Homo sapiens: one gene and its partner. The protein of the gene in region 2 purifies or fractionates together with the protein of the main gene of each other region. This does not show direct contact. Each region holds a gene or a part of one and is shown on either strand. Other genes may lie near its edges.

Evidence for each region.
Region 1: the proteins of FBXL5 (region 2) and CTNNA2 purify together in Homo sapiens (affinity purification with mass spectrometry; one large-scale study listed by BioGRID and IntAct). This does not show direct contact.

The regions. Positions count from the first base shown.
Region 1 is NC_000002.12:79,876,495-79,880,150, reverse strand, and holds part of CTNNA2 (catenin alpha-2), read right to left. Parts: intron 1-3,656. UniProt on the Homo sapiens protein: May function as a linker between cadherin adhesion receptors and the cytoskeleton to regulate cell-cell adhesion and differentiation in the nervous system. Required for proper regulation of cortical neuronal migration and neurite growth.
Region 2 is NC_000004.12:15,641,785-15,645,440, forward strand, and holds part of FBXL5 (F-box/LRR-repeat protein 5), read right to left. Parts: intron 2,925-3,656; coding exon 2,709-2,924; intron 1-2,708.

The sequences.
Region 1 (3,656 bases), on a different chromosome or scaffold from region 2:
CAAAGCTGGTTCAACATAGGCAAATCAAGAAAAGTAATCCATCACATAAACAGAACCAAAGACAAAACCACATGATTATCTCAATAGATGCAGAAAAGGCCTTTGATAAAATTCAACATCGCTTCACATTAAAAACTCTCAATAAACTAAGTATTGATGGAACATACCTCAAAATAACAAGAGTTATTCATGACAAACCCACAACCAATATCATATTGAATGGGCAAAAGCAAGAAGCATTCCCTTTGGAAACCAATACATAACAAAACTGCCCTCTCTCACCACTCCTGTTCAATATAGTATTAGAAATTCTGGACAGGGCAATCAGGTAAGATAAAGAAATAAAGCATATTCAAATAGGAAGATAGGAAGTCAAATTTTCTCTGTTTGCAGACAACATGATTGTATATCAAGAAAACCCCATCATGTCAGCCCAGAAACTCCCTAAACTGATAAGCAACTTCAGCAAAGTCTCAGGATACAAAATCAATGTGCAAAAATCACAAGCATTCCTTTACATCAATAACAGACAAGCAGAGAGCCAAATCATGAATGAACTCCCATTCACAATAGCTACAAAGATAATAAAATACCTAGGAATACAGCTAACAAGGATGTGAAGGACCTCTTCAAGGAGAACTACAAACCACTGCTCAAGGAATTAAGAGAGGACACAAAAAAATGGAAAAACATTCCAACCTCATGGATAGGAAGAATCAGCATTGTGAAAATGGCCATACTGCCCAGAGTAATTTATAGAATAAATGCTACTTCCATCAAACTACCATTGACATTCTTCACAGAATTAGAAAAAGAAACTACTTTAAATTTCATATGGAATTAAAGAAGACCCCGTATAGCCAAGACAATCCTAAGCAAAAAGAACAAAGCTAGAGGCATCATGCTACCTGACTTCAAACTAAACTACAAGGCTACAGTAACCAAAACAGCATGGTACTGGTCCCAAAACAGACAGACCAACGGAACAGAAGAGAGACCTCAGAAATAACACCACACATCTACAACCATCTGATCTTTGACAAATCTGACAAAAACAAGCAATGGGGAAATAATCTCCTATTAAATAAATAGTGCTGGAAAACTGGCTAGTCATAGGCAGAAAACTAAAACTGGACCCCTTCCTTACACCTTATGCAAAAACTAACTCAAGATGTATTAAAGACTTAAATGTAAAACCCAAAACCATAAAAACCCTAGAAGAAAACCTAGGCAATACCATTCAGGAAATAGGCATGGGCAAAGACTTCATGATGAAAACACCAAAAGCAATTGCAACAAAAGCCAAAATTGACAAATGGTATCTAACCAAACTAAAGAGCTTCTGCACAGCAAAAGAATCATCAGAGTGAACAGGCAATCTACGGAATGGGAGAAAATTTTTACAATCGACTCATCTGACAAAAGTCTAATATTCAGAATTTACAAGGAACTTAAATTTACAAAAACAAACAACCCCATCCAAAAGTGGAGAAAGGATATGAACAGACACTTCTCAAAAGAAGATGTTTACATGGCCAACAAACATGAAAAAAAGCTCAACATCACTCATCATTAGACAAATGCAAATCAAAACCACAATGAGATACCATCTCAGGCCAGTCAGAATGGCAATTATTAAAAAGTCAAGAATAGATAGATGCTATAGATGCAATTGGTGCTAGCAAGGCTGTGGAGAAACAGGTACGCTTTTACACTGTTGGTGGGAATGTAAATTAGTTCAGCTATTGTGGAAGACAGTATGGCAATTCCTTACAGATCTAGAACCAGAAATACCATTAGACCCAGCAATCCCATTATTGGGTATATACACAAAGGAATATAAGTCTTTCTACCGTAAAGCCACATCCACATGTATGTTTACTGCAGCACTATTTACAATGGCAAAGTTATGGAACCAACCCAAATGCCCACCAATGATAGACTGGATAAAGAAAATGTGCTACATATACACCATGGAATACTATGCAGCCATAAGAAGGAATAATATCATGTCCTTTGCAGGGACGTGGATGAAGCTGGAAGCCATCATCCTCAGCAAACTAACACAGGAACAGAACACCAAACACCACATGTTCTCATTCCTAAGTGGGAGTTGAACAATGAGAACACATGGACACAGGGAGGGGAACAACACACACCAGGGACTGTTGCGGGGTGGGGGCAAGGGAAGGGAACTTAGTGGATGGGTCAATAGGTGCAGCAAATCACCATGGCACATGTAAACCTAGATAACAAACCTGCACATTTTGCACGTGTATCCTGGAACTTAAAGTAAAATTTTTAAAAAATAAATTTTAGGGCAAACTAGCTGTGCTGTCTATGAAAATATATTTTGCATTTTTATGGTTCCTTTTACTTCAGCATTTCAAAGACGTTAAACTTATTTAAATTTTCACTATATGAGAAAGGTATTATACCAAGTATCAGTAAGAGATTTTGCCAGAAAAGTAAACCACAGGAAGTTTGAGTGAGTTTTTCACCCAATGAAATATCAATTTGTTTAATATCTGAGAATAGCATTTAGGACTCATGACAGATGTCCATGAATTCAAAATCAATTTCAAGTTAGCATGCCTAAGAAATTTTTAAAAAAACAGTATTCATCATACAACTATGGAACAGAAATTTATAATTTAGTCATAAAATAAAGAGAAACGGTATATTATTTTAATGAGAAAATTTCAAGTATCATTAACTACTGTCTAGGTTTGCTGATGTCAGAAGTGATGGAAAATCTACAGCAGGTGAATCACATTACAGTCTGTAAATTCAATACTAATTTACTAGCATTACTACTTTTGAGAAAGTGCTGAAATTAAATTGCATTTGTTAAATGACAATTGTTAGGGAACCACATCAAATGGAATTATTGTTTCAAAACTGCAATTCAGACAGCCTCCACATTTTGATTTTTGTTGACCTCCAAGAAGTAAAATGTTGACCATTAGATAACGCTTTATGTAATTCTCATAGCTTGAGAAACAGTATACATTTAATAAGAATATATTACCTCATTAATATACTTAGCTAATATAAAATATAATTTTTTCATTCATATATAATATACTGAGTTAATATTATAAGTAATATAATTAGTTAATATAGAAGTTTAAAGTTAATAAAATATAGTTAGTGACTTATTTACCATATTATACTTTATATTTTAATTTTTCCAACTGTTTCAAATATATCATGTTTTATAAAAAACATGTTTGATGGTTATATTCATGTGTTAAATTTCCAAAGCCTTATTTGTCCAGCATGAGGAGATATCACTTCAGGAAAAACAACAACAACAAAAAAAAAACCTTGAACATTCAACATGTTGACATACTTTGCTAATAGATTTTCCCCACATGACCTCAAGTTTGATTTTTATGAATGAAAGCCTTTTGCACTGTTGCACTGACGCATCGGTTGTTACATTAATTGGGGATAAAAGGTGCTTTTAATGAAAATCGTCTGGAAACAAAAGGCAGCATGGGGAAGCAGCAGTTGTCACACTCTTGGACAGAAGGTGGCAGCAGCTGAAGTTCCTGGACTGTTCACAGGCCTTCTCTCTGTGCTTCATATTTTCACTCTTAACCAGCTCCTCACTTAGGTTTTGTTGTTTATTTTTGATTATAAAATAAATT
Region 2 (3,656 bases):
GGGACGCAGAGGCAGGCGGATCACCTGAGGTCAGGAGTTCAAGACCAGCCAGCCCAACGCGGCGAAACCCTGTCTCTACTAAAAATACAAAAATCAGCCAGGTGTAATGATGGGCACCTGTAATCCCAGCTACTCGAGAGGCTGAGGCACGGAGAACTGCTTGAACCTGGAAGAAGGAGGTTGCGGTGAGCCGAGATTGCACCACTGCACCTCAGCATGGGTGACAGAGCAAGACTCTGTCTTAAAAAAAAAAAAGAAAAAATTATTTGATGTAAGGTCATATATATCAATATCAACACTTCTAAAGGCAAGGTGCTCACTATATCTTGAAGTAACTCATTCTAATTCTGGGCAATTCTAAGGAGCTATAAACTTCTTCCTCATAACCTAAAATCACATTTCCCCACTTCTATATCAGCCCTCTCAAAGCATGTGGAAAATTTATAAAATAATGAAAACTTTTTTTTTTTTTTTTAAGACAAGCCTTGCTCTGTTGCCCAGGCTGGAATGCAGTGGTGCAATCTTAGCTCACTGCAACCTCAGGTTCATGCGATTCTCCCACCTCAGTCTCCTGAGTAGCTGGGACTACAGGTGCCCATCACAACTCCCAGCTAATTTTTTTGGTATTTTTAGTAGAGATGGGGTTTCACCACATTGGCCAGGCTGGTCTCGAACTCCTGACCTCAAGTGATCTGCCCGCCTCAGCCTCCCAAAATGCTAGAATTACACGGATGAGCCACCATGCCCAGCCTATGAAAACTTTTAAAATATGAAAATATTTTATCTCTGTTAAGTCTTCTCTGGTCTCTTTTTCCAGAACTAATTTATTCAACTGCTTCCCAATATTCAGTCTAATGTCCTGTTCTCTTACGACTTTACACATTTTCCCTAAGCATATCCACATGGCTTCCATTCCTACTTATATGCTAATAATAACTATCAAATTTGCTTTTTCATACTGGGTCACTCTTCTGACCATGAAATCCATCTTTACCACCTCCTATTCATAAATGCCCATCTGGATTACACAAGCAGTTCAAACCTAATCTGTCAAGAATGAATCTTTTTTATTTCCTGACCCTCTTCTATATACTCTAGAAAGTCAGGCTGAATCCTCATTTTTATTTCTTTTCTCTTCTTTCATCCTCCCTTTAAGTATAATCACTACATTCTATCAATTTTATTTCCTACATAATTCTCAAGTCTGATCCCCTCCCCTTTATTTCTACTAGTCATGACTTTAGTTCAGATTTGTCGAAGGTGTATTCATGTGGCAATACATAATATGATACAAAATTCAAAGAATACGAAAGAATATTCAATAAAAAAGTAAATCTCCCTTCTATTAATATTACTATCTAGTACCCTACCCCAACCAAACCTCCCACACCTCCCCACCAAGTAGCTACTAAGTATTCTTCCAGAAACTATTAGAATAATTTTTTAATAATGGTCTTCCTCCTTTAGTCTTTTCTTTATCTTTAATCCATCCTCCCTAAGCTGTAGAACAGCCTTTCCAGAACATAAATCTCCAGGTGAGGAGCACATGGTGGCTTAACAGAGTTGTAACTTAAGCTTACGCTTCACCAAGCCAGAAGGGAAATAAACTAAGATCAAATTTCAAAATCCTATAATATGTAAATGTAATTAAGAAGAAAGTCTCTCTACATCATTATCCTAAACTATACCCAGTAATATCTTTAGCTCACTGCAACCTCCGCCTCCCAGGTTCAAGCAACTCTCCTGCCTCAGCTGGGATTACAGGCGCCTGCCACTATGTCTGGCTAAATTTTTATATTTTTAGTAAAGACAGGTTTTCACTATGTTGGCCAGGCTGGTCTAGAACTCCTGACCTCAAGTGATCCACTAGCCTCGGCCTCCCAGAGTGCTGGGACTACAGATGTGAGCCACTGCACACTGCACCTGGCTGGTATTCAATTCTAAAACAAGTAAAAATTTATAAAATTAAAGTGTTTATTCATTCTAAGTAATAATTATACCTTTGGTCACCATTAACTGGATAGCTTTCCTTTAAGAATTCAGCAAATGTTAACAGAATGTAAAAATTTTATAATTAAAACTTCGACTTACAAAAACAGCTTTCAGACTTGGTGAGTAGCATTCATTATAAAATTTTATTAAACAGTAATAAAGAGGTAACTGATGAAGACTCTCACCAAACCTGAGTCAGGCTCCTCTGGGCCCTCTTCTCAACTTAGGCCTGACCTTATACTCTGTTCTTGTTCGGCTTAGTCCAGTTTCAGCAAAAATCCTGCTGAATTGGTTTAGTGAAAAATCTCTCAGCCTTAGTATCTGATCTGCATCTACATCTAATCAAACTACTGATCCTTCAATATGTTACTATCCTCTTGCCTTCAGCAAGAATTTTATAGTTAGTCTAGCAAGAATCCCCTTGGCCTTGATGTTTCCTCAGTAGTTTTCCATCCACTCTTCCCACTTTGCCCCTTGGATATAAATCCCTACTTGTCCTTACTGTATTCACCGTCGGGACTGATCTCTCTCCACTACTGCAAACTCCCCACTGCAGTAGTTCTTTTTAAATAGTCTTCCTTGCCATCTTTAACAAGTGACAAAATAATTTTTTTCAACATTACATCATTTACTATAAAACAGTGACAAGTTTTGCCAATGATATACCAGAAGATGGCACAAGTTTTGACAGTTGAATATCCATTTTTGCAACTTACCTTAACATTCTTCAGTCCCTTTTCAAAGAGGCTAAGCATCTCGGAGAGTTTATTGTCAGAATGTACATTATAAATGGTCTGGCTGCGTTGTTGAAGCAAACCAATAATGTATTCATTTTCAATCTGCTCATGCATTTTGAACTCCTTGAAAGTAGCATACAAAGACTGCAGAAGAGCACGGAAATCGTTGTTGTTGGAAAAATTGGTTTTAGAAAGCTGAATAAAAATTTAAAAAGAAAAGTGTAATAAATACGTGCAAATATGCACAAATAAAAAATATTCAAATACATCCCTATTCACTTTTGCACACAGCATACTTCCCTTACACTTGGTTAAAGTACAAATAAAAGAAATTCATAAATTAACAAGTTATAATGGTATAATAAAAAGTGCACTAGGCCAGGAAGATGTTGGTTTGCATTCTGGAGGGCCTGGTGACACAGAAAAATGATATGTGCACAAATCACGGTTTCTTTAAAGAGAAGAGATTAAACCAGGCCCCTTCTAAACCTAAAATTTCATTACTCTATATGTATGCTAAATACAGGCAGGCAGAAATTTTAAAGAGGGAAACTTGATTAGGTTAAATACAACAGACGGGTAGATGAAAGGGGAAAAGCTACTAACACCATACCTCCTAGACTTGCTTTCTAAAGTATCTAGTATTCCTAAAATGGAACATAATCTAAGCTGTCTTATTGCCTATTATCAGCAGGAATGACGGTCTGATGACAGAGCATCAAAACAGATGACATAGAAGCTCCTAAAACAAAATTATTCCTACTATACATAACAGAATTAACTATCTTCTATAAAAAGTAGTGCGGATTATGCATTTTAAGAGTCATAGTGAACCAGTTTTAAAGTCACATTCTCTAGGATGGGATACCAGTTCTACCATTACTTAACTGTGTAACCCTGGGTAAGTTACTTTTCTTTCTTTCTTTT